Linked DNA regions of Homo sapiens: all the other regions are linked to region 1. Evidence: fine-mapped expression QTL. A gene starts in region 1. Each other region holds a variant in brackets. All regions are shown on one strand. Distances are between the middles of the regions.

What was found. PIP is the estimated chance that this variant, and not a neighbour inherited with it, causes the effect.
Region 2: its variant is fine-mapped to the expression of SDCBP2 in esophagus mucosa (GTEx, PIP above 0.99).
Region 3: its variant is fine-mapped to the expression of SDCBP2 in sigmoid colon (GTEx, PIP 0.98).
Region 4: its variant is fine-mapped to the expression of SDCBP2 in whole blood (GTEx, PIP 0.97).
Region 5: its variant is fine-mapped to the expression of SDCBP2 in transverse colon (CEDAR, PIP 0.95).

Annotation. Positions count from the first base shown.
Region 1 is chr20:1,326,153-1,331,255 of GRCh38, reverse strand. It overlaps SDCBP2 (syndecan binding protein 2), which reads left to right and starts at 2,117. Exons shown (of 9, transcript NM_080489.5): 1 at 2,117-2,171. The region is part of intron 2 of FKBP1A-SDCBP2 (FKBP1A-SDCBP2 readthrough (NMD candidate)); the gene reads left to right. All of the region lies in intron 1 of SDCBP2-AS1 (SDCBP2 antisense RNA 1), which reads right to left.
Region 2 is chr20:1,379,760-1,384,862 of GRCh38, reverse strand. The region is part of intron 2 of FKBP1A (FKBP prolyl isomerase 1A); the gene reads left to right. The region is part of intron 2 of FKBP1A-SDCBP2 (FKBP1A-SDCBP2 readthrough (NMD candidate)); the gene reads left to right. Among named protein-coding and RNA genes, the nearest start is that of MIR6869, 11 kb to the left of the region's middle. The variant G/T (reference allele first, on the strand shown) is at 1,980.
Region 3 is chr20:396,894-401,996 of GRCh38, reverse strand. It overlaps TRIB3 (tribbles pseudokinase 3), which reads right to left. Exons shown (of 4, transcript NM_021158.5): 4 at 4,438-5,103. Among named protein-coding and RNA genes, the nearest start is that of RBCK1, 8.9 kb to the left of the region's middle. RefSeq lists an enhancer at 2,495-2,995. The variant CAGAAGA/A (reference allele first, on the strand shown) is at 2,901.
Region 4 is chr20:1,386,267-1,391,369 of GRCh38, reverse strand. The region is part of intron 2 of FKBP1A (FKBP prolyl isomerase 1A); the gene reads left to right. All of the region lies in intron 2 of FKBP1A-SDCBP2 (FKBP1A-SDCBP2 readthrough (NMD candidate)), which reads left to right. Among named protein-coding and RNA genes, the nearest start is that of MIR6869, 4.1 kb to the left of the region's middle. RefSeq lists an enhancer at 1-229. The variant C/T (reference allele first, on the strand shown) is at 2,584.
Region 5 is chr20:1,034,842-1,039,944 of GRCh38, reverse strand. No RefSeq gene overlaps it. Among named protein-coding and RNA genes, the nearest start is that of RSPO4, 35 kb to the right of the region's middle. The variant A/G (reference allele first, on the strand shown) is at 2,271.

The DNA of each region.
Region 1 (5,103 bases):
AGCAGCAGGACAGGCAAAGGTATGGAGTCAGGGCAGGTAGGAAGTGGGTGTGCAGTGGGGCAGGAATGGTGGGGCTCCCAGTCCAGCTGAGGCAGAGGTGCTGGGGGAGTGCTGAGGAGGTAATAAAGGGAGTGGGCTGTGGAGGTCTCCATGTCAGCCCTGGGAGTTTAGCCCAGACCCTGAAGCAGGAGGGAGCCACTGAAGAGTTCGAGCAAGGGCATGCCCAATGAAAGATATTTCCAGGTGGCTGGAAGTCAGTGATGGGTGGCAACTATCCAAAGAGGGAATAGAAAGAGAGTCCCTGTAGGTATTAAATAGGTGGGAGTTAGGGGACCTGGGCTCCATGCTGACATGCTGGGACCACAGGCAAGCCCCTTACCTGGAAGGGCCTGCTTCCTCCTCCCTCTTCTATAAAGGCCCTTTCAGGTCATGACTGAATGAAGTGAGGTGGGGGAGGAGTGGCTTGGTTTAGTTAGGATCTCTATTTTCCACTTTGCTTTGGCCTTGGACACCTGACCTAAGGTGGGTCCATCACCCACGTTACCTCAGCTTCAGGCCCACACAGCTTACTCTGAGGTTGCCCCACACCTCAGCTTTCTGAAACAGTATGTCCCATAGAAGAGAAGACATGAACTTGGCCCACTTTCCAGCTAACTTGAGAGAGAAACTTTGCCTCTGTGCCTCAGTGTCCCCACCTGGAGGAATGGTGTGAGTCACACCTACTCTGCAGGGATGGCATGAGAAGCCATTGAGATAATGCCTTTAAAGTGCCAGGGGTAGAATCTCTGTGCTCTCTGGGAGTAAGTGCTGAATTAGTGGCAAATGTCTTTCTTGTTATTATTCCTATTGTGTGTTTCCTGTGTGGGACTCTGGGCTGTAAGCTCTTCATTGGCAGGCACAAGATCTGACACCCAAGGCTAGTGCAACTCTGCCAGGTGGGTCATGGGAACTGTGACGTAGGCCTGCCTGGCCCAGGAAGCAGCCCAGATACTGACACACCCTGAGTGTGTACAGCGTCAATCCTCATGGGACTGCCCAGCACACGAGTCCCTCGTCCCTCCCCAGGCACCCAGTGCGACAGGCACCCTCACCCAACCAAACCCACCAGGATCTAAACTAAATTCTTCCTCCTTTTCTGTTCAAATTTATATAATTATTTTTGGAATAAGTAGTACATTTAAACTTTTCAAAATTTAAGACACCAAAAATGTGCCATAAAAAAAAAAATCTCCACCTCAGCACACAGCTCCTTAGGTCTGCTCCCAAGAGACAACCACTCTAAATTCCCATTAAAATAATCAAACTTAATTGCTTCCCCCTTACAAAAGTCATGAGCATTCAGAGCAAAAGCTAACTTAAAAAAAAAAAAACCACCTTGGAACACACAAAAGTACAAACTGAAAACCTCACCCTCAATGCTGCCATTCAGAGATACTCAGCATTTTAGCGTATGTCCTCCTAGACTGCTTTCAACGCACATCCACTTTACAAAAAATGAAAACAAAATGCAAGAAGAGATTCACAATATTGATTTTTCAACATCTCACTAGAATCTCAGAAATGTTTCCTCATACCTTCTTCCTTAAGTGACTTTAATAGCTCTGTGATCTTCCACAGACAATGATTTATTCAAGCAGACCACAGAGATGGGCATTTGGGATTTCTACATTTTCCTTACTAGAAGCAGCAGTGATGGATGGGCCCTGTGACTCCACTGTAACAAATTCCTAGAAGAAATGCTGGGTCACAGGATATGACCACTTTTTAATATCCTGGCCTAGACCCCTAGATACCTATCACAAACCGCCCTCTAGCCAACTGCCTCGATCAGCAGGACTAGGTGTCCAACCCAAATTTAGAGCTATTTAAGAAAAGGCCAAGAAGTCTTGGTTCATAACCGTCTGAACAGCAGCTGTGAGGGCCTTAATCCCACCTCCAAATCCAGACTAAGGCCAAAGGCCTCCTCTGGGCTGGCAACCTGCCTTGTTTACCCAGCCACAGCCCTCACCTGTGCCCATCCCAGTCCAAGGTGAGTCAGCTGAACAGGGGACAGGCACCACCCTTCCCAGATCAGGAAGCCAGCTGAGAGACAGGGCTACGTTTCAGGGAGGGAAACAGATTCAGCAGCGGCAGCAGCTGGAGAAGGTCGTGGAGCAGCACCTTGCCTGCAGGTAAGCGCTGGGGGCCCTGACCCAATCCTGGCTGGGATTGGGATGAGTGAGACCTGCTCTCACCCTGTCCCCTTCCCTCCCTGCCCCTTCCCTTCTGGGACTTCCCAGGCAGCTTCCTTTCGAAGTGCTTCACTCCAAGCAGTCAAGTGTGAAGTGGGGTTTCTTCTTCTGATCCCAGCCCTGGACCAAGTTTGATTAAGGGCTGAGTGATTTTCTTCACCCAGACATCATGAGGGCCCCCGATGCCTTCTGACTGCCCATGACTGTGCTCAAGGAGATGAGATCCACACTTTGCTCCTTGAAAGGCCAATTCCAGCCGAAACCAGAGGCTGCAGGCAGGCAAAAAGCCCATTTCTCCCAAGGAATCCACAGCTCAGGCCGACTTCTCTGGCCTGAGGCTGTTTCTATCAAAAAACCTTCCTGCCACAGCACTGAAACACCTGCTGGGGAACTGCGCCAGGGGCTTCACCTTTCTAAGAACTGGTTTCTTCATCTGGAGACTGAAAATAGCCCACAAAGTCAGGAGAATGGAAGGACATACTGGACACAGGAGCCAGTGCATGCCCTCCTCAGCAGGGTCTCAGAAAATGGGGCAGAAAACGAGCCTGGTATGGGCTGGGCGAGCACTGGACAGGCAGCTTCACGTACAGTGGCCCAAGCTCATGACAATTCCACCACCATCACTTCCCACCTGGGCTCCTGCTCCCACTCCTGCCCTGTAGCCCATCCTCCAAACATCAGCCAGAGGAGGCCTGTCAAAATAACCCTTGGACCTTGGCACTCTGCTGCTACAAATCCCCCAGTGGCTCCCATCTCACTACAGTAAATGCCAAAGTCCTCACCATGACCTCCAGGCCCTCCAGGATCTGGCCCCTCTCACTTCTCCAGCTTCCTCCCCACTACTCCTCCTTACTCCCTCTCTGCACAACTGGCTTCTCACTGGCAGATGTCCTCTAAACACAACACCAACTCCCACCTGAGAGGCTCTGCAATGGCCGTGCCCACCCCATTAGGCCTTTCCTCAAATGTCACCCCACCCAGCCAGCAAGGCTTCTGAACCTCCTGACATGACCCTCCGTCCTGCTCTTTCTCTCCAGTGCCTCCCACCATCTAACACAGCACACAGAGTCACAAAGCCTATTTATCCAGCTCTTCCCCCAAAGAAAGTACATTTGGGGACCAAGTCTTCTTTCCTTCACTGCTGATACCTAGAACAGTACTCAGACTTAGCAGGTGCTGAGTAAGTAAGCGCTGAAACAATGAATAAACAGCTAACTTTTACTGAATGCCTATTATGTGCTAGGTGCTGTGCTAAATGCTTTCCATATACACCTTAACTCTTTTTAAAAATCTTTCAGTCTCCAGACAACTGTGATGCAACTATTGTTATCCAGATTACAAAGGAAGAAATGACATTCAAAGGGGATTTGCCTATGCTGTGCTCTCACAAGTCAGAAGCAGTCAGTCTGAACCCTGCCCTGCCTGGGCCTGGGTTCAGGCGTGTCTGCTTGAGGAAGTCACAGCTTTTCCCCAGCAGGCAGTGCAGCACTGAGAGGAGGAGTGGGGGTACATGCTGGTGGCCTAGCAACAGCTTCTTCTATTCCGACTCACCACATCCCTGGGCTAATTTGGCCTTCCAGGAGCTATTCCTCTGACACTCTAACCCACGCTTCCCTCCCGCGCACTGTCTTGTAAAGGACGGATGAGCTGTCCACAGGAACGAGTGGGAGTTCCATCACTTCAGCTCTTTGGAACAAAGTGTTCCAAAGAGTGTTCTCACTCTAAGTTCAAAGATGGGGGCTGAAGTCCCCTTGTCAGCCCTGCTGATCTCCGAAGCCCAGCTATTGGTTTGTTGTGGGTGTTGTTATTGCTTATATCAAAAAGTACAGAAGCTCAGGGATGGAAATCTGGAAAGGGCTGTGGGAGAGGAAAATTCCTCTGAGAGAGAGGGGTTAGGTGGGTTCTTTTCCTTTCGGAGGAACCAATTACTTGTGGGAAGCCATCAGCACAGAACTGAGCAAACTTCCACTGTCAGATTATAGGAGCCAGGCAGCCTTTCAACCTAACTCGTTAGGGCCATGGTTTCTCTCCTTTTCCAGGCCCAGGTTATTCTTCGAAAGACTTTCTACTTATTGACTGCAAACACAGACAGGCATGGGAAGAAAGACTGTATATTTAGGATATCAGGCTTTCTCTTCTCTCTGTGCCTGCTTTTCCACTCCTTTCAGAAATAGTAATGGGATGCCTGTTGTGTGCCAGGCACTGTGCTCAGCACTGGGGGTTAACAAATGAGTGACATTTCCTGACCAGTGAGGGAGATGAGCAAACAAACACAGCACAGTGGAAATCCAACCTAGGAAATGCAGAAGGCCTTGCTCATAGTAGGTGATTAACAAACACTTGTGGAATATATGATGAAGAGGCAAATACAAGAAATGCTGTCGTCTAGAGAAGGGAGGCTTGCCAATCTCCATGCGTACAGGTGGGGGAAAGCTTTAAATTGGAGGAAAAAGAGTTCACAACAAGGAAAAGAGAGAAGGCATGAATGACTCTTAAGACAGAGGGAATAGCACCTGCAAAAGCATGGAGGCATGAACTAGCAGGCTGACTTTTAGGACTCAACCTAAAGTAGTCTGGAATAAATGAACTTCATGATAAGTGTGGAGAAGAATGAGATGGTGAGAATGGAAACATTACCAGAAGTCAGGTCACAGAGATTTGAGGGCAAGAAGTAGGTATGGCTTCAGAAGGGAAAGGGAGGAGCTGAGGATAACTCCCAGATTTCTGACATAGCCCATGGGTGGATTCAGTGAGACCGCTGGGGAGGCGCGGCACAGCTGGGGAAAATCACGAGTCCAGTTTGGATAATCTGCGAGGTAAACGGGATCCAGAAGGCAACTGGACTCTCAGGCCTGGGCCTCCCTGTCCCTGG
Region 2 (5,103 bases), 54 kb before region 1:
TATGGGAAATGTGCTTGCACTGTTGGTGATCTCAGGAAAATGATAGTGAGAGTGAGCTGGTTCCCTCTTTGGGTTGGCACTTGGACCTTTGGTCATACCCCTCACTCATAAGGAGTTCTCAGAACCCCACTTCAGGGAGGTTGTGCTGGAATACAGCCACAGAGACCCAGAAATGGAATAATAAGAATGTAAGATTTGAATTTGTATCTTTTGCCTATCTAAATGTAGAATCCCTTTTTACCCATCATGATTGAGACAAGTGGGTAGTTGGTATGCTAACATAAAAGTGACATGGCTTCTGTAAACATTTGATTTCAAACTCTAACATAAATCATTTGCTAAAGGACTATGTCTTTATCTTTGAGGATGGCTCTGCTAGTGGAGTTTCCCATCATAGTTCTTGCAAAAACCAATTTGACCTTTTTTAAAGTAGAGCAAAGAGTATTGTGAGAACATTTAAAAACCAAACCTTTCCAGATTTTTAAGATTTCTTTCTCTAAATGTAGTCTCCCATATGATTATTCACTAGCAATAGTTTTTTAGTGACTTGCCTTTATTGAGTCTTTCCCAGGAGTCAGCTAGAACCGCTGTTTGTATTCACACTCATTTTATTGATTTACATACTATTTAATTACATTATATTTACACAGTAAATATAGCTACCATAAATGGATTTGGGGACAAACACAGCTAACCACTCCTCCCTTTGTGAACACAGAACTCATATGGGAATGAAGAAGTGATCATGAGCTAGAGACTAAAGCATGAGGGGAGTGCTCTTCACTATGCTGGGGTACGAAGGCTGTGAGTTTTATGAGTCTCCAAGTAAGGCAGCTGAGTAAAAGGTGGTTAAGAGAACTTCTGTGTCTAATAAGAAGAGGGAAAGCAAACAGCTAAACCATTAGACCTTGAGCCATACGCCCATCTGGGAATGTTCTGAGTGGCTTCAAATGCAAAGCTGCAGAAAAATACTGGCTCCCCCTACCTCCACCCATTCAACCATTACACCTTTTTTTTTTTTTTTAAGAGACAGAGTCTCGTTCTGTTGCCCAGTCTGGAGTGTACTTGTGCGGTCATAGCTCACTGCAACCTCAAACCTCTGGGCTCAAGTGATCTCCCACTTGATCCACTCAAGTAGCTAGGACCATGTCTGGCTAAATTTTTTTTTTTTTTTTTTTAATTTTTTGCAGAAACAGGATTGGGGACATGAGTCTTGCTGTGTTGCCCAGGCTGGTTGCAAACTCATGCCAGTCTCAAACTCCTGGCCTCAAGTGATTCTCCTGCCTTGGCCTTCCAAAGCACTGGGATTACAGGCATGAGCCTCCTCCGCAGCTGGCCTCATTGTACTTTTTGTCATTAAGAAACTCACCTGCGTGTTGAAAGTAGAAATCCTTTTCCCTCTCCAAACTGTAAATGGCAAGGACTTTATTTTATTTTGAAGGTTTGGGGCTTAGGATATTCTGGTTTTTTGTTATGTTTGATTTTTGGTTTAGTTTAGTCATTTTTTTTTTTTTAATCTTAAAACTTCCCATATTTTGTCCCTGTAAAATGCTGCCTATAGGAAACACTCCTGCAAAGATTCATGAGCAACTATAAACTGCATTGTGAGTCATGAGCTTTCACTACAAGTAGTGAAGCCATAAGTCTGTAGAGGTGCCTTCTTCAGTCCTGTTACCCAGTAGAAGGTATATGGCACTCTGCCCTTCCCCAAAGCAGAGTGCCTTGGAAGTGACTCCATTTCTATTGGGTTATTAGTGAAATAGTATCCCAGTGGTCCTTGTGAATCTCCAGGTCCTGGTCTTGAGTCTTAACCACCGCTTCAGTGGCTTGAGCCAACCACCAGGAACACAGTCTGGGGATACTTTGCTGCCCAGGAGCTGCTGGCCAGGTCTCCCTCTGCTGATTCCTTGAAAAGCAACAGGAAAGAGCAGGCTGCTGTGGAGTAGACAGACTTGAGACTCTCTGCACCGTCTTGTTTT[G/T]TAAACCCTTTTGCTCCCTTTCCAAGGATTTCAGTTCAGGAGGAGACCCAGGCGAAGATGACGTCAACAGCCTCTGCATGCAGTCAGTCATAGCTTTGGCTTCTTTCATGGTCTTGTGCTTTTAACTGGAGCACATTTTCACATTTTTCTTACTGATTAGTAACTAAAGGTGCTTAAAGTAAAGTTTACCATTCTGGGATTACCCCTCATATTCTTGTTACCATATAGGGAAGAAGGTCTAAATATGAAGGCCTCATGCTTGTCCTTCTGGTTCTTAAAAATCATGCAAGTAAAGCAAATCCAAGAGTGCTCTTGAGTACCAGCACCATACGTGCCACCAGGACACAGAACGCAGGCCAGGTCTGTGAGCTTGGGCTGCATTCAGTCAGGAGAGCCAAGACTAAATACTTAAAATAAGAATATGGAGCTATTCCAGGCAGTTTGTTAGGCATGAGTTATAGGCTTGTACGGCCAGGAATGAAATTGGTCAGTTCTGCAATTAGAAGGCAATGCTTGTGATGTTTTATGCTGAGTGGCCTTTAGAGCTTAAAGACTGTCAGCTGTCTTGTCTGCACTGTAACCTCAGTTGCCTTCTCTGAGCAGGGCACGCTTTCTTTAGGAAATTATGGCACTAACTTGGCAGGTGGTTTCACTGTTCAAGGGCTCCAGCTCCTGGCACAAGTGATCTCCAGAGTTAAAATTGGAGCAGCTGCTGAGACTTGACTTGCTGCCTGCTTTACCTGTTCCCTCCCCAAAGAGAGGAAGCACTTTTCATTCATTGCCAGTGTGTATGTGGGAGCTAAACATATATAGCATTTTAGTAAATGCCACTGCCTACTCTTTTTCTTTTCCTTTTTTAAAAAAGTTACTGAGGCGTGATTGAAATCCAATATACTGCACATTTTAAAAATGTACAGCTTCATAAATTTTGATGTGTCATTGTTTCCCTTTGAATTCACCCCTCCTTACCCTCCTCTAACAACTACTGATATGCTTTTTTGTCAGTGTAGATTTGTTGCATTTTCTAAAGTTTTATATAAATGGAATCATACAGTACGTTCTCTTATGTCTGCCTTCTTTCACTTGGTATAATTATTTTGAGATTCATCTGTATTGTCCCATGTATCAATTGTTTGTTCCTTTTTGTTGCTAAATATTTTTCTATATATAGAAACATGTATTTACCAACTTACCCGTTGGTGGATGTTTGGGTTAGTTTATAGTTTTTGACTATCGCTAATAAATCTGCTTTGAACATTTGTGTACAAGTTTTTCTGTGGACATAGCCTGTCATTTCTCTTGGATAAATACTCAAGATCAGAATGGCTGGGTCATATGGGAGGTGTATGTTTAACTTAACTATCAAGCTGTTTTCTGAAGCTTTATGTTATATTCCCACTAGCAGTGTATGAGAATACCAGTTCCTTCACATCCTCACTAACACCTGACGTGGTCAGTCTTTTTAGCTTTACTCATTCTAATCAGTGGTGGTAGATGCGTTTCCTAGTGGTTTTAATTTGCGTTGTTATAATAACTAGGAATGTTTAGCATCTTTTCATATGCTTACCTGCCCTCTGTCTTTTTCAATGAAGTATCTGTTCAAATCTTTAGCCCTTTTTTATTGGTTTTCTTAATTGTTGAATTTTGGTTTGTTATATTCTGGATATAAGTCCTCTATCAGATATGTACTTTGCAAAAGTTTTCTCCCAGTGTATGGTTTGTCTTTCATTTTCTTAACAGTGCTTTTTAAAGTACTGAATTTATTTTGATGAAGTTCAATTTATTCTTTTATAGATAGTGCTTTTTGACATCATACTAAGAAATCTTCACCCAACTCGAGGTCACAAAGATTTCTTTCCTATGTTTTCTTCTATAAATTTGATAGGTTTAGTACTTAACATTTAGGTCTAGGATCCATTTTGAGTTAATGCTTGATAATGGTGTGAAGTTTTTACTGTGTTATGTGTGGATATTTTGTCATTTCAGCCCAATGTAATTTTCATCTCAGACATTGTAGTTTTCATCTCTGAAAGTTGGAGTCTTATGGTTCTCCTCTACTAATTCTAACATTTGTGTTAGTTCTGGGTTGCTTTCAATTGATTGATAAGTCTCCTCATTGTGGGTCCTGTTTTCTGCCTCTTTGCATGCCTGGTAATCTTTGGATGCCAGACATTGTGAATTTTGCCTTTTGGGGTGCTGGATATTTTTATTCCTATAAATTTTCCTGAGTTTTATACTGAGAAGCATTTAAGTTACCCGGAAACAGTTTGATGCTTGCGAGTCTTGCTTTTGTGATTTGTTAGGTAGGTCTAGAGCTCAGTTTAGGGCTGATTATTTCCTACTATAGGCAAGATCTTCCTGAGTATTCTGCCCAGTGCTTTGTCAATCATGAGCTTCTCCAGTTTGACCGGGGGGTAGTAAGCACTAATCCTAGCCCTGTGTGAGCACTGGATACTGTTCCTCTAAGCCTTTTGGATAGTTCTTTTCCTGGCCTTGAATAGTTTGCTCAGATACATGCACTGAGAGGGACTCTGCTGAATACTCAAAGAGGACCCTGCAGATCTCTGGGGATCTCTGTATAGCTCTCTCCTGCTGGTACTGTGTCCTATGGACTCTAGGTGCCTTGAGCTCCACTCCAGGTCCCTCTCCCTGGAAACTCCCAAGGATATAGGGCTGCCCTTGTTTCCCATGTCTCAGGATTTATTGTTCTTCATTACAGATGTCTGGTGTCCTACAAACCATCGTTGTAGCTATTTTGTCTAGGTGGTTTTTAGGTTTTAGTGGACTTTTTGTAGGGAGGAAGGGGTTGGTTGGTTGGTTGTTGGTTGTTTCATGAACAAATCTGATCCTTGTCCTCCACCGTGACCAGAAATGGAAGTTCTCACTATCTGTTTTGACATTACAGACTGAACAGCATAATTCCTACACATGCACACTCATTCCAGCTTAACAAACACTGCTTCCACCTTCTCCCCCAGGCTGACAACTTAGGGCCATAGATAAGTGGCCTGTTCCTCCCCACTGGGGAAGCCCTCCTTCTCCTTGTCCTGTAGCTTGTGCCAGTTGTGTGACACCCACTTAATCACATACCACCCCACCCATTTCGGGGGATTATTGTTTAGCT
Region 3 (5,103 bases), 930 kb after region 1:
TCCTGACATCCAATCATGGACATTGTCACGGCTTCATGATCCTGGATCACCCAAAGGAGATGATTCTCCTTCTGACGTATCATCAGGTGAGTAGTAGTCTAACGCTAGATCACAATGCCCATGTCATTCATTTACCTTCATCTCATCATGTAGGCATTTTATTATCTCCCATCATCACAAGAAGGGTGAGTACAGTACAATAGGACATTTTGAGGGAGAGACCACATTCGCATAACTTTTATTACAACATACTGTTATAACTGTTCTATTTATTGTTAACTGTTTGTTTTTTTTGTTTTTTTTTTTTTTTTGAGGTGGAGTCTCGCTCTGTCACCAGGCTGGAGTGCAGTGGCGCGATCTCAGCTCACTGCAACCTCCGCCTCCCGGGTTCAAATGATTCTCCTGCCTCAGCCTCCCAAGTAGCTGGGATTACAGGCATGCGCCACTACACCCAGATAATTTTTGTATTTTTAGTAGAGACGGAGTTTCACCATGTTGGTCATGATGGTCTCGATCTCTTGACCTCGTGATCCGCCCACCTCGGCCTCCCAAAGTGCTGGGATTACAGGCGTGAGCCACTGTGCCCAGCTGTTGTTAACTCTTAATTTGTAAGAGTTTAATTTACAAATTAAACCTTATCGTAGGTATGTATGTATAGTAAAAAACATGGTATATACAGAATTCTGTACTATCTGTGGTTTCAGGCATCCACTGGGGGTCTTGGAATGTATCCCCCCTGGATAAATGGGACCACTGTACATTGAAAAACAAGACCACACATTATTTTCAGCTCTTCCCATCAAGAGAAAGAATCAATTTGCCTGCATCCTGAATTTGATGTGGAATTTGACATGCTATTTGATATGCTTTGACACTAGTGCAGCTTGAACACTGGAATTTGTCCTCTCTTGTTGCTTTCTGAAACCCTGAGACCACCATAGGAAGGAGTAGGCTATGCCTATTGGAGGACGAGGCCATGTGGAGCAGAGAAGAGCCTTCCTGGCAAGGTAGACATTCGAGCTGCTTGCTGCCTGCAGCTGCAGGAGTGACCCAGCTGAATTCAGCCCAAATTGCCAGCCCAGAGGATCATAAACTACTGTTTGGGGTTTATAATGCAGCAGACTGACATGGCCTTGTTACTGGTGGAGAATATTTTTCCTCCCTTCACTAATGGCAAATTTTCCTTAGTCATGGTAATTAACACTATCTACCAGACAAACTCCAAATCTGAAAGACTTAACACAAGAAGCTTTATTTCTTGCTCAGTGAAATCTAAGGTGGATCTGGTGGCTCTCCTCCAGCTTGTAGCTAAGGGAACTTGTGGGCGCAAGGTGGCTGTGGCAGGGGAAGAGAGGGATGAGGCTCACCAGCTCTCCATTGCTTCAGCCTGCCACTCCTACACACACCCCACTGGTCAGAACTAGTCATGTGACTGTAAGGGAGGCTAGAAAATATAGGGGAGCTCCTGAAATATTGAGATGCCTGTCTTTGCCACAACGAACTTCCACGAATATAATTAGCTATGCCATCTGTACAGTTATCTGTTTAACATCTCTCTCCTCTATTAGACTGTGAACCCTTGAGGGTGGGAGCACATCTGTCTTGCATGGCACCTGGCCTATAGTAGGCATTCAGCGATGGTTGTTGAATTGCTAAGTGAATGAATAATCTGGCAGGTCACAATAGGATCTTTTGTGTTCAGCCCCCAGTGGCAGACATTCCTCAAGTAAATTTCTAACAGTCCTTCCCTTTCAGTAATATACATCTACTAATTTGATATTGTAAAACTCTTATACAATGATGATTAAATGAAGACAAGTAGAACATGAAAGTCCTCACTAATTAGGGTCGGGGTGTGGTGACATCCATTATTTGATAAGAGTGAATATTACATTTTATTATTATTTTGAGACAGAGTCTTGCTCTGTCGCTCAGGCTGGAGTGCAGTGGTGCAATCTTGACTCACTGCAATCTCTGCCTCCTGGGTTCAAGTGATTCTCCTGCCTCAGCCTCCCGAGTAGCTGGGATTACAGGCCCATGCCACCACGCCTGGCTATTTTTTGTATTTTTAGTAGAGACGGGGTTTCACCATGTTGGCCAGGCTGGTCTTCAACTCCTGACCTCAAGTGATCTGCCTGCCTCGGCCTCCCAAAGTGCTGGGATTACAGGCGTGAGCCCCCGCTCCGGGCCGATATTACATTTTTAATGGGCGGTTTTCATGTGGCTGCATCTGCGCAGCCTTGTCAAAAGTTCCTGCTCCAAGGCAAAAACCAGAGGAGTCTTTTTCTCTGTTGTGAGGTCTTGGATGAGTCTTCTGCTCTCTCTAAAGCTCATTTGTCTTATCTGTAAAGTGACAGGAACATCTGCCTCACTGGATTGTCATGAGGAGTAAATGAGTCTCTTTGTGGAATGGAGTGAAGGGTTGGCACGGTACCTGCCCTTGGCAGTCCTCGTGTTCCCCTCGCTCCACTGGTAGGTATCAGGCCAACACTCAGCTTGGAGGGAGCTGGGACAGGGTCTGTTGGAAGCTGGGAGGGGCAAGATAGAGGTCAGGGGCTGCCCCATGAGACCCTAGACACAACTAGGCCCTGTTCTGGGCAATGCTGGGTGCACAGAGATGAGACTGACTTGTCCCTGTCTGCATCAGTTAGCTTTTGCTGTAAAACAAAATAGCCTCAAACTTAGTGACTTAAAACCACAATGATTGGCCGGGTGCGGCGGCTCACGCCTGTAATACCAGCACTTTGGGTGGCCGAGGTGGGCCTATCACCTGAGGTCAGGAGTTGGAGACCAGCCTGGCCAACATGGCGAAACCCCCGTCTCTACTAAAAATATAAAAATTAGCCGGGTGTAGTGGCGCGTGCCTGTAATCCCAGCTACTCGGGAGGCTGAGGCAGAAG[CAGAAGA/A]ATCGTTTGAAAACCCGGGAGGCAGAGGTTGCAGTGAGCCAAGATCGCACCACTGCACTCCAGCCTGGGTGACAGAGTGAGACTCTGTCTCAAAAAACAAAACAACAAAAACAAAACAAACAAACAAAAAAACACAATGATTTTATTTAGCTCAATTAGCTCATGACCTTGCGGGTCACTGGGCAATTCTAGCGTGGGCCAGCCTGGGTCAGATGATCTAGGGTGGCCGCTCTCGAGTATCTGCAGTTAGCAGGCTGTTGGCTGGGCCTCCGCACTTCCGCACATTCTTTTCCCTACGATCCCCTCCCTCTTTGAACCTGGTTTTGCTCAGGAGTCACTACCCCTCCATATGACGCATGAGCTCCACTTAGCTCGAGGAGTGCCATGGTTAGTGTAAGCACGTGCCCCATGAATGTAAGCTGGTGATTGGTCAGAAACGGCAAGTGATGCAGTTCTGACCAGTGAGATGTGTGGGAAAGTCGGTCAGGAGCGCTTCTGGGAAAGCTTCCTCCATCCCAAGAAAGAAATGTGGGAGCACCATTTTTTTTTTTTTCGAGACGGAGTCTCGCTCTCTTGCCCAGGCTGAGTGCAGTGGCGGGATCTTGGCTCACTGCAACGTCCACCTCCCGGGTTCAAGCAATTCTCCTGCCTCAGCCTCCCGAGTAGCTGGGACTACAGGCACGCACCACCACGCCCCGTCTCTACTAAAAATTTTTGTATTTTTAGTAGAGACGGGGTTTCACCATGTTGGTCAGGTTGGTCTTGAACTCCTGACCTTGTGATCTGCCCACCTCGGCCTCCCAAAGTGCTGGGATTACAGGCGTGAGCCACCGTGCCCAGCCGGGAGTAACTTTTATTGTGGGCTTATTATGCCAGGCGCTGCTTGTTCTAATTGCTTTATACAAAATAAGTCATTTAGTTCTCATAAGTTAGGTACTATCATTGTCCCCCATTTCACAGATGAAGAATCTGAGGCATAGAGTGGTTAAGAAACTTGCCAAGGGTCAAACAGCTATTGAGTGCTGGAGCCAGGATTTAATTCCAGGCAGCCTGACTCCAGAGTTCTGAGTTCTCAGGTACTACAATGACCCCTGGCTTCTTCCTCTGGTCATGGACCTCTTTAATGTGACACCTGCTGTAGCCATTGGGCCAGCAGTCTCGAGACAATACAGCCAAGAGACAGAAGGAGCCTGGAGAGCCGGGGTCCCTGTGCGCAGCTTTGGGAGTTGAATGGACCAGCACTGAAGCCCACCCTATCTGCTGACTTCTTGTTTTGTGTGAAACATATTTCCATCTTGTTGAAGCCATTTTGACTCAGAAAGTACCCTAATAGAGACACTGCTGCTGCCAGAAGAAACAGAAGGAGTGCAGGAAGACCCACTGGGCTCCAGGTAATCTGTTCTCACAAACCACTCAGCCCAGGTTAAGACACAACTCTACGGCCTTTCACCATGGGGGCCAGTTTTGAAGGCAGGAAAAACTGGTAAGAGATCGTTGGAAAGGATGGAAGAAATTGCAGAGAAAAATAAAATTATTTCATAATTCTCCTTTATTAGGCACAGGTAAACATACATACTCATGGTATCCAAAACCTAGAGTATGGACCTGGGATTGTGGACCCCAAGTGTCCCCAGAAGAGTCCCACCTGGGACTTTCCAGGTGGCCACAGGACAGACCCTGCCTAATCCTGTCCCTCAACCTTGGTGCTCAGGTCAGAAGCCCCATGGTTGACAGGCCTGGACCCTCATTCCAGAACAGTCTTGAGTTAGACAAGAACTAGCCTCATAGTTTGGATTCTTATCTCTGGCCCAAATCCCAGGCTTAGGCCTGGAAGGAGAATCTCTTAATCAAGAGGACAGAGATGCTGGGAACACAGTTCCCAGAGTGAGCTGGGCTTGGGTCCTGAGTTGCAGGGGAGAGGCCTGGAGCCTTTGGCACAGGGATACCTCCCTTTCTCTGAAAAGGTACAAGATACAAAGGCAGCTGGTTTGTTTGTGAAAGGGATTGTCCTTGGACAGAGGTGCCTGAGCACCAGCATCAGTGGAGGCCGACACTGGTACAAAGTGTACCCAGTGTAGACAGTGACCTATGGTCATGGAAAAGTGTTGTCAGCTCAAGGATGCCAGTTTGTCATCTCTGTGAGCAGGGAATATTGTCTCCTTTGCTCACTGCTGTACTCCCAGCACCGAGAACAGGG
Region 4 (5,103 bases), 60 kb before region 1:
CTGGGAGGTCTGGTAGATGAAAGCGCATCCTTTTGGTGATTTGTCATCGGAAGGATGAGGAGAGTAACCATTTACAGTGCTGGGGTGAGTGGGCAGTTCATTCAGTTCCGCAGCCAACTGGGGCAAAGATTGGGACTCAAGCCGTGAGGAGCTGCCTTCTGCCGCACCCCCTCCCCACCCTAGCTTGTACATAGCCACACTAGGGTGCTTGGCAGCATGTGTCCCACTCCCACGTCTGCCCCTCATGCTCGCCCATGTTCTGGTGCTGCCAACAGGACTGGACCCCAGCATGTAGGCAGTGCCGCACTTCACCATGTCTCTTTGTGAAATATCCCCACACAGCATGTCTGGAGCCTTTTCCTATGAGAACAGATGGTCATGAGACCCAGAACACCATCAGGGTTTCCAGTGCCTCTTGAAGTGTGTGTTTTTCTCGCGGGTGGCACGCACCCACATGTTTCCAGAGCAGCAGCAGGACCCTGGCATGCATTAGGACAAAAGCTTTCTTTTTGATTTCGTTTTGATAAGCCCTATAAAGACGCCTTAGTGAGAAGCCAGCTCTGCCTCATGCTCACAGAATAGACTGTTTTCGAGCAGGCTGGTGGCTTTGTTCCCGTGGGTCTTTGTCACCAGCCTCCCAGGAATAACCTGTTTGAGACCTGTGGGGGCGTGAGAGGAGTGGGTAGGCACTGGGAGATCTCATCTGTAGCAGTTAAGGCTTTTAAGTCACTGGGAACAGAATCCATCTTGGGGGAACATGATCAGAAGGTGGAGGTTATAAAGGTTCCAGGGGTTTTCAAAGGCAGAAGCCCACTGGGTCCTAAGAAGGGAAAAGAAATAATCATGATGCCTCTAGTTCTCATCTCTGTTTTTTGGTTGTTGTTTTGTGTTTTGTTTTGTTTCCTGCCTGACTGCCTCAGTAGTCTCCTGTTAGAGATTTGTGTTTGTCTGCTTCTCCCAACTGGTGGGTGGTGGAAGTCCCCTGCATGCTCCCCCGTCCCCCCTCCCCCCTCCCCCCTCCCCATGGCCAGCTTCTCTGTCTTCTTTTGAGTATCTGGCTCAGATTTCTTGGCTGTGATTCTGATTGTTACTTCTCTGAGAAGGAGAGTTTGAGTAAGGTGAACACTCTTGATCCAGTCAGCTCTTGCCAGGTGTCCACTCAGCTGATTTGGGCACGGGTCCAGAGAAAGAGGGGTGGAAGTAAGGTGGCCAAAATCTCCCCTTAGCCATCACAGGTGTGCAGAGCACAGACTGACCTTTACCACATGGATGCTTTAAATGCCACTAATGGCTGTCAGTCACCTTGATGTCACTCTCAAGGGTCCCTCTGGTGACTTCCGTGACCTTCTGGCAGAGCACAGCATGAGCAAGGCCTCAAAGGAATGCCTGCACTACCTCTGTGGTACCAGAGGGAAAATACAAAGTTCACTATCACCAGCTAAGCATCTCCTAGGAGCATGACAGGCATTGAGGTGGGAGGGAGGTGGTGGAAAGGTAAGCTGCCAAGTAAGTGCCTTTAGGAGCCAGGGAATTCTCATGGCGCCTCCCTGCTGCCTCCAGTAGCTTCGTCATCTTTACTGTTAGCTTGTCCTGGCACACAGCTAGGTTTAGACCTCTTTTACTTACTTCAGCAGGCCGTGTGCCTGCCATTGTGAGAGCAGCCCCAAGGGGATTGAAGGAATGTTTTCTTTTTTCTTCTTAAAAAGTAACTAACTGGACATTTTGTCCTTGGGATCAGGTTTAAGTCAGGTATAGCCTCCCGGTTTCTGACTGAGAAAAACCAGGAGCCCCTCAACCTCATGTCCTCAGGAGGTTGACTGGGAAGGCTGCTGAGGCTCCCGGGACAGGTGTGGCCACTTTGCTGCAGCCTCCCTCAAGCCCCTTGCTTTTCCTTAGCTTTGTTCCCCCCTCTCCTCTGCTTTATTCCATCCACTCCCTTGCTAGGTATCTCTTGGTTGGTGATCTGATGTCTGGAGGGAGGCTCACCCTCAGCAGAGATGCCTCAGATGGCTTCCCCTGACGTGTGCTGTCTTGAGGCACACAGGCTGTAACTGTTGGGCAGGGCTGCAACAAGTCCCTTTGCCTTCCCACAGCAGATGTTTTTTGAGCAACAGCAGCAAGCCAGGCTCTAGGGACATGGCTAGTGAACTAAATAGACAAAGACCTGATCTGGTGGGGCTTTGCTTATGATGAGGAGACTGATAGTATGGCCATGGAGCACATCAGGTAGTAAGAAGCGCTGGAGAGATTAAAGCAGAGTGAGGGATGGGAAGGGAAGTTGGCTGCTTTTCGTGAGGGTGATTGGAAAAGGCCTCTGAAAAAAATGGCATTTTAACATTCACTCAAAGGACATTGGAGAGGGAGCTACAGGGCTGTCTAGAGTATCCAGGCAGAGGGAAGAGCTAGTGCAGGACCCTGAGGCTGGAGCCTGCTCGGTGCATTAGAGGAACAGTAAGAAGACCGGTGCGTTAGAGGAACAGGAAGTGGATTGTGTGAAAGGGTATGTGGCAGGAGATGAGGGGATGGTGGAGCCTCGTTGGTTTTTATAAAAACGTTGCCTTTTTCTAACTCAGGTGAGAGCCA[C/T]TGGCTGGCTTGGCTTTTAATGCCCGCCCCCGCCCCCCCAACCCACGCTCCTTCTGGCTACTGTGTGGACAATGGGCTTTTGGGGGCAAAGGCAGAAACAGGACACTGGTTGTATCCCAGGTGTGTGGAGTGCCAGCTCAGGCAGTGGGCAGAAGTGGTGCCAGGTGGACAGTGATCCCCAAAGAGCATGTGGGTTCTTCGCTGTGTTCTGATCTTGACCCTGCCATACAACGGGCTATGAGAGCTTGAACAAATTGTCCCACAGTTCCCAGCTTCCACATGCTGTCTATAAAATGGGAGTAACGATGCCTGCTGTGAAGCAAATGCCTATCGAGACTACCCAGTTGTCTCCAAAGTGTTGCTCTTTTTTAAAACCACAGTTCCATTGAGCCTCACTCATCGCAGTTGTTATGTCTGTAATCTCAGTCTAGAAGAGTCCTTACGCTGTTTTTTTCTTAATAACTCTGATTTCTTCAAAGAGAGCAGGCTAGTTATAGAATACTCCACATCTGTCTTACTGTTTTCTCATGGTATTGTTTAACTTGTTCCCTGCCTTGATTTTCTGAACCGGATGTTTAATCTTTTAAGTGTCTGAATAGATTCCGTTTAAACATTTTAGTGTGAGTACTTCATCCTCAGCACACATGGGAAACATCACTAGTTGTGATGCTAAATTTGATCTTTTCTGTAAAGGTACATTTTTCCCTTTGCATTTAGCAGTGATCTGTGGAGTGCTTAGGTAGCCATAGATGGTCTCTTGCTCATCAGCCTTTCACCTAGTGGTGTTTACACCATCTGATCATTCTCCCCTGAAGAAGTCACTGGCATTCACAAAGTGTTGATTTTTAAAATTCCTTCATTCTTTCTAAATTTATTAGCTGTTATCCTTCTATAAGATAAGGTAAAGTAATTCTTTACCTTTAAATACCAAATTTTATTTTTATTTTTTGAGACAGTGTCTCTGTCACTCAGGCTGGAGTGCAGTGGCTTGATCATGGCTCACTGTAGCCTCGACCTCCCAGACTCCCATCCCGGCCTCCCATCCGGCCTTCTGAATAGTTGGGCATACAGGTGCATGCCACCTGTCCTAATTTTTGTATTTTTTGTAGAGACGGGTTTCGCCAGGTTTCCCAGGCTAGTCTCAAACTCCTGGCCTCAAGTGATCCACCCTCCTTAGCCTCCCAAAGTGCTGGTAGTACAGGCATGAGCCACCGTGCCCAGCCTTTAATTACCAATTTTTAAAATGAAAAATGAATGTTAACTGATGGGGTATTGCCATTCCCAGTGGGGGCAAGTGACTTTTTCCCCCTCTATTTGCTTTGACTGTACTGTGGGCTGAAATTTTTTGTCAGGGCCTTAAGATCAATGATACCCATTATTCTTTTTGATGCTAATATCATCCTAAATTTGGCCAGTAGGAGCCCTTTAAGCTGGCTCCAGTACCTTTTTGACAGGCTCCCACCATTCCTTCATCCATTTCTCGGTTTCACTACTCTGGTCCAATTATCAGCCATCTTTCAAAGAGCTCTGGTTCCTTTCAGTGGGGTCCATGACCTTTTTTTTTCTTGGTAACAGCTTTATTGAATATAATTTACATACCATAAATTCACCTATTTACTCATAGATGTTTTAACTAGAACATTTTTAGGCTTAAACTGATTTTTATGAATTACTGAGGGGTTTATTGTATCCATAAACTGGAAATCATTTGTCTGCCTTGGAATTTTCTCTAAAAATATTGTCACCTGCTGTTTCCCATGGAAGAAGCCAAGGTTATGAATAACTTAATCACATAGCATTCAGTTCTCCCTTTGGTGCTCATGGTGACATTTGTTTATTTTTACTTCTATTTTTTCTTCTGTTTTTTTGTTTTCTTTTCCTGCTAAAAAGCTTAACCAAGTCTCTGCATTCCCTCCCCTGGACCCCTTTGATTTTGACCAGGTGTATTCTAGCAGTGCAGAAAGTCGGGGAGGTAGAAATAACCAGTTCTTAGATGCTACTGTCTCTTTCTGTTACATTTGCTCTTCCTCTCCCAGGAGCTCAAGCCACCTTGGCCTGCATTCATTCCTCGAATGCTCCAAGCCTTTTCCCACATGGAGGTCTCTGCCCCTTTGCTTAGGTGCCACCACACTGCCCCCACTCCCCACTGCATGACAGGCTCTTTTCTTTATAGCACAGCTTAAGTAACACTTTGGATGCATACATGCATGCTTCTAATTCTGCAACAATGCACCCATCTATTTTCTTAGCCCCCATCATAGTCAGGATCCGTGTAGTTAAACATCTGCTCTTTCCCCAACCGACTGAAGGCTCCAGGAGGCCAGACCCACACTAGTGTTGTTCTCCAAGGTCTCCCCATCAGTCTTGGCATAGAGTAGCTATTCAGTGACTGTTTGAATGAGTGGCCAGTTAGGACCTGGCATTCCCTCGGTCACTCAGTGAATATATAAGGAGCTGGGCAAAGCCTCAATGTTGCCCTCAAGAAGCTTACCCTGTAGGGAGTGGTCAGTTACAATGAAA
Region 5 (5,103 bases), 290 kb after region 1:
TGTATTTTTAGTAGAGATGGGGTTTCACCATGTTGGCCAGGCTGGTCTTGAACTCCTGATCTCAAGTGACCTGCCCGCCTCAGGATTACAGGTGTGAGCCACCATGCCCAGCCTGAGAACCACTGATTTTGATAAAACCAAAATCTTCATGGAGTTTCCACCATTCAATCTTAGGTCTATACCCCAGGGCTCCACCCATGTCTGTCTTCAAGGGGGCAGTAGCTGAGAGGCTGAACTTTAGAATTCATGCTTCTTTCCATCTAGTCCACGCTCAAGGTCTCCCAGAGCATGGGATTCCCACCCATCTCTCCCCATCCCTCCTCTAAACAAACCCCATTTGGTTAATGTTTCTGAAAGACTGAAGGCCCCCAAATTCCCAGGTGTGGCCTGAGCAGTACGGAGGTCCCTGTGGACCTGTCACCTCCCCCTTGAGACACGCCATTTCTATTCCCACCTCTGGGTCTATCTAAGCCCCCAGCCACCTGTCCCATAGTTCCTGTCCCTCATCCCTCCTGGCGTTGTGATTTGAGTGTGCAAAACCTCTCTGGGCTCCTGAAGAGCAGGCATCCTACCAAGAAATAGCAATGCAGGCAAAGAAAACCTCCAACGTATTAAGCTGGCTTCGTTAGGAGGCCAACTTCTGAAAATTCAATTTGCTGGTGGTAGAAACAGGATATTGAGTCTGGCCAGGATGGGCTCTGAGGAGGGCATCTGAGGGGGAAGAAAGGAGGCAGCAACCTGCGGGGGTAACGGTAACGTTGGGTACATTCCTCGGCAACACTAAAACCCACTGCTAATCACAAACAGATTCCTGCCTGCCCAGGGGCTTTCTTTGTTCACTCCGATTTCTCCCTCCAAACATGACACTGAATCCACCAGGCTCTGCCTCTCTTGGACTTCTGTCACTTCTGTGGGCCTCAGTTTCCCTGTGCTATATGAGAGGACTGGGCTAGGGTCTGTAATCCAAGCCTAATATCCCAGGATCTAAACTTCTCTGACTTAAAAGTCCCCAAGAATCTGGAATTCCAGGATTATAACATGCCCAGATTTTATGACGGCAGAATTTGATGAGTCAATGATGGCAGGTTCTAAAGTGCTATGATTTTAAGACTCTGTGGCTTGAAGATCCTGACCTTGTGACTTTCTACGATTCTAAAATTTGAAGAGTGTAAGTCTCAACGACTTTAAGTGTCTGTGAGGCAGTGCTGTGTGCTTTAGAGCCAGGCGGCCAGTGACCCTGGGCAAGTTACACCTTTCAGTGCCTCCGTCTTCACATCTGTGAAGTGGGGGGTCACATTGTTACTACCTTCTGGGGTGGTTGTGAGGATTAAAGGCGTTGATATTTGTAAACAATGTCTGGAGTAGTAAGTACTCAGTAAATGTTTTGTACCTATCATTATTCTAAAATGAACAGTTTCTACAGCCTCAGAATCTGAGATGGACCTCAAAGGCCCCAGAGTTGTAAGTTTCAAAGAATCCATTGTTGAAAGATTCAATGACATACGAATTCTGTCAGCTGGCTATGGACATACCATGTTTGGGCGTCCTTGACCCAGGATCATGGGATTTACCATGGGCAAGCTGAAGAGGCTGGCTGGCCAGCCTGAACCTGCCACTCTCAGCCACAAAACCAATGAGCATGACAAGTTTGGGACCCTCAACTCCTGAGAAGTGCCCTCCTCTTCCCCCAACACTTACCACTGGGGATAACTTGACCTTCTGGCTAAAGGCTCATTGACCTTGACTAGCTCCTGGAATCCATAAAGACACAGGAAGACCATCACTCCCCTAGCTTGGAACTCCATTCCTGAAGGACCTGCTGTGGCTCCCTACTGTCTTTCAAACCAAGTTCTATTTCTCAGTTCTTTTGGAGCCCCTTAATATCTTGTTCACTTCCAGGTAAGTAAAGATAATCCGGAATGGGGAAGGGAGAACTGGGATGGTTCATCGGAAGTTACTTCTAGGTCCAGGTGCATTTGTTCATTCTTATTCACAACACAGATATTAAATATCTATTATATGCCAGTCTCTCTTCTGGGCTCTGAGGACACACAAGTGAATAAGACAGACAAGGTCCCTGTTCTTGAGACCTCACAAGACTCCCTGACTCACTGTAGAGCATTATTCTCAGGGTAGAAGAGTACAGGCCATTTCCCAGCTGCACAACCTTGAACCAATGCTCTGGGCGTCGTTTGTAAAATGGGTCAATAACACTACCTACCAGATAAAGTTATTGCAAAGATTAAAAGAGATGGTAAAGAGCTTGGCAC[A/G]GTGCACGGCACATAGTCTACAATCCATGAAAGCTGCTTATTATTATTATTGTTGTTACTTCATTTCTACCTCCAGCTCCTTTTACAGCACTTAGTGTGGTGGCTAAAAGCCCGACAGACCTGGACTCAAGTCCTGGGATATTAAAGATGGATAATCATCGTGCCTGCTTCCCAAGGCTGCTTACCTGGCATGTTGGCCATACCCAGCCAGGGCTCAGATGGTAACAGAGACACATTCTCACTTTCCTCCACTCTTTCCCCGAGAACCCATCCCAACCAGCCTCACTACCTGCATCAGGTCCCACACAATGCACAACCTGAGCAACTTCCTTTCCTCTTTGGGTTCCAGTGTCTTCCACATAGGGCCTGAGTAAAACTGGCTCTAAGACATGGGCTGAGACATTTGGGCATGACACAAAGGGCAATAGGGAGCCAAAGCTGGCGCTAGAGAGAGGGAGTGTCCATCTAAAGGGTGTCCCCTGTCTTCCAGTGGTTCCTCTATACCCTTTGCATCTCATCCTCACAGCTGCCAGGGGCTTGCTCCTGCCAATGCTGGCCATGAGTCCCTGGCCTGTTTGGGGGTTAGGTTATTTTTTCATTAAGTTTGTAATTATTTTTAAAATGCAAGTCAAATAGTGATGTGCTGAGCTGAGCAGCGGGGAGGTTAAAGCTTTTTCCCTGCCTGCGGCCTGCTTGGCCCCTATGCTGTTCTGGGTAATGGGGAACATTTTCGGGAAAATAAACAAGGAGGCCTTGATTCTTTGGGGACTTTATGAACTTGACCCCACCCCGACTCCATACCCCACCCCGTTAGCAGGCCTGGTCGCCCTCCCTGTTAATTAAAGGGGAGACTAGTTTCCAGGGCAATTTCAGCTCTGGCCGGGCCTGTGCCCACATCCTTAAGAGGGAGGCCATGGTGATGGGCCGGCTGGGCGGCTGGTGGCCTTGGAGGTAACAATTTGTCTTGAGATGGAATCCACTCCCCTGAATAAAGGGACTTTGTGTTCTCTCCCATTCTCATGCCCCCCTGGTCCCCATGGAGGGATTAGAGGGGAAACATCTGTGGTTCCCCAAGAACAGTGACCGCCATGGTAGGCAGCTCTTAGGCCACTGCCTGGGCCAGCAGGACTTTCTCATGCACACTGGGCCTCTGTCTGTCCTCAGAGCTCTGCCTTCTCATAGAAAACATGGATCCACGCAATCACTGGCTCATTCATTTGTTCACTCAACAACTCTTTATTGAGCATCTACTGATGTACCAGGTGCTCACAGGCACCGAGTGTATGGAGGTGAAAAAGCAAAGCTCCCCCTGGTCATGGAGCCCATGATCTAGTGGGGTCGACAAACCTAAAGATAAATAAGTCAATCAAATCCATTGGCAGGCAGTCAGACATAAAACAAGTTAGTAGAGAGAAAGTGACAGGTGGGTGGGGATCCTCCAAGGAGGTGGCATCTGAGCAGGGACCTGCAGGTGGAAAGGGGTGAGCTGAAAACAGTGGCACTTAGCAGGGACAGGTCAACCTCATGCCTCCACCCCACTTTTCCTCCTCTAAGCTTTTTGGTCAAGGCTGCTCTCCACTCTCTGCCAAGCCAGCAATGACTTATCTGTATTCTCCTTAATACATAATTTGCTATTTTATTAACTGTATCAAATGCATTTGTAAAACTAGAACATGAAGCCACCTTGGCGTATAATGTAGGCTCTTACTCCAGTAAGAGTCACAAAACCCACATTGCTGACACACTTCTGTCCAATATAAGAGGGTGCTTTTTCCATTTAAAACTCTAATGAAATGGTGGCTTTAAGATAGTAGACTAAAGACATTTCTATTCCTTTTCTCTTCTTAAAAAAGAAAAAAACAAACAAAAAACTTCCCCAAAACAAGAATAAGGAGCAGAAACAAAAACTCTGTCTTTGAGGAAATCGAGAGACATTTGTAACCCTGAACTACAAAGGAGGGAAATGGATGAAGTGGCCAGTGACATAACCGAGAGGAAGAAAGTCAAAGCTAAATGGATGGGGTAGGTGACTGCTGTGTGGGTGGATTGCTGCATAGAGAAACAAGCCAATTTGCCTAAAGGCCTCAAAAATTGAAGCTACTAGGTCTTGGAGGAGCTGCTGGTGAAGTGGGGATTGAAAGCAATCTGTACAAGGAGCATGGGACCTCCACGTCCCCAACCCCCATCCTGCCCAGCCAGGTAGTAACCCCACTCACTTCTGGGCAAGCAAAGGGAGGTTTATTCTCTGAAAAAAAGGCAACAAAGAAACTCCAAAACTAGAAACATCAGGCCCAGAGAAGGTGAGATCTTCAGCCCCCTTCACCCGTCTCATTCTAGAATGTCCAACCCCAGGCAGAAAATTATCTGGAGAACCACTTCCAGGACAAAGACCTAAAGATACGGTAATTGGGGGTGGGAGGAGAGTGCATCACAGAAAAAGCCAACCAGCCCCTTTGCACCAGCCCTATGCAACCACCCTGCATGGACCCTACACAAAAGCCTACCAGTCCACCCTCCCCACCCAGTTTCCAGCCAGAGTGGTAATGTGAGTAGACAGCCAAGGATCATTAGAAATTTCTATCATGAAGTGCAGAGATCAAAGCAAACCATGAGGGCGGGGTAAAAGGTCTTCAAGAAAAGAATCCAGGGAACAAGAGAAAACTTAAAATAAATCCTACAATTAATATCCCTTGAGTGATAAAGATATTGCAGCAGTAAAATGTGAACAAGAAGCTCTCTGGAAGGAACAGAGAGTAAGAAACCAGAGATTAAAAATCTGTGCAGTAGATTGCACAAATGACCCCAAGTTTTTTCTGTCCCAGAATGCCTGCCA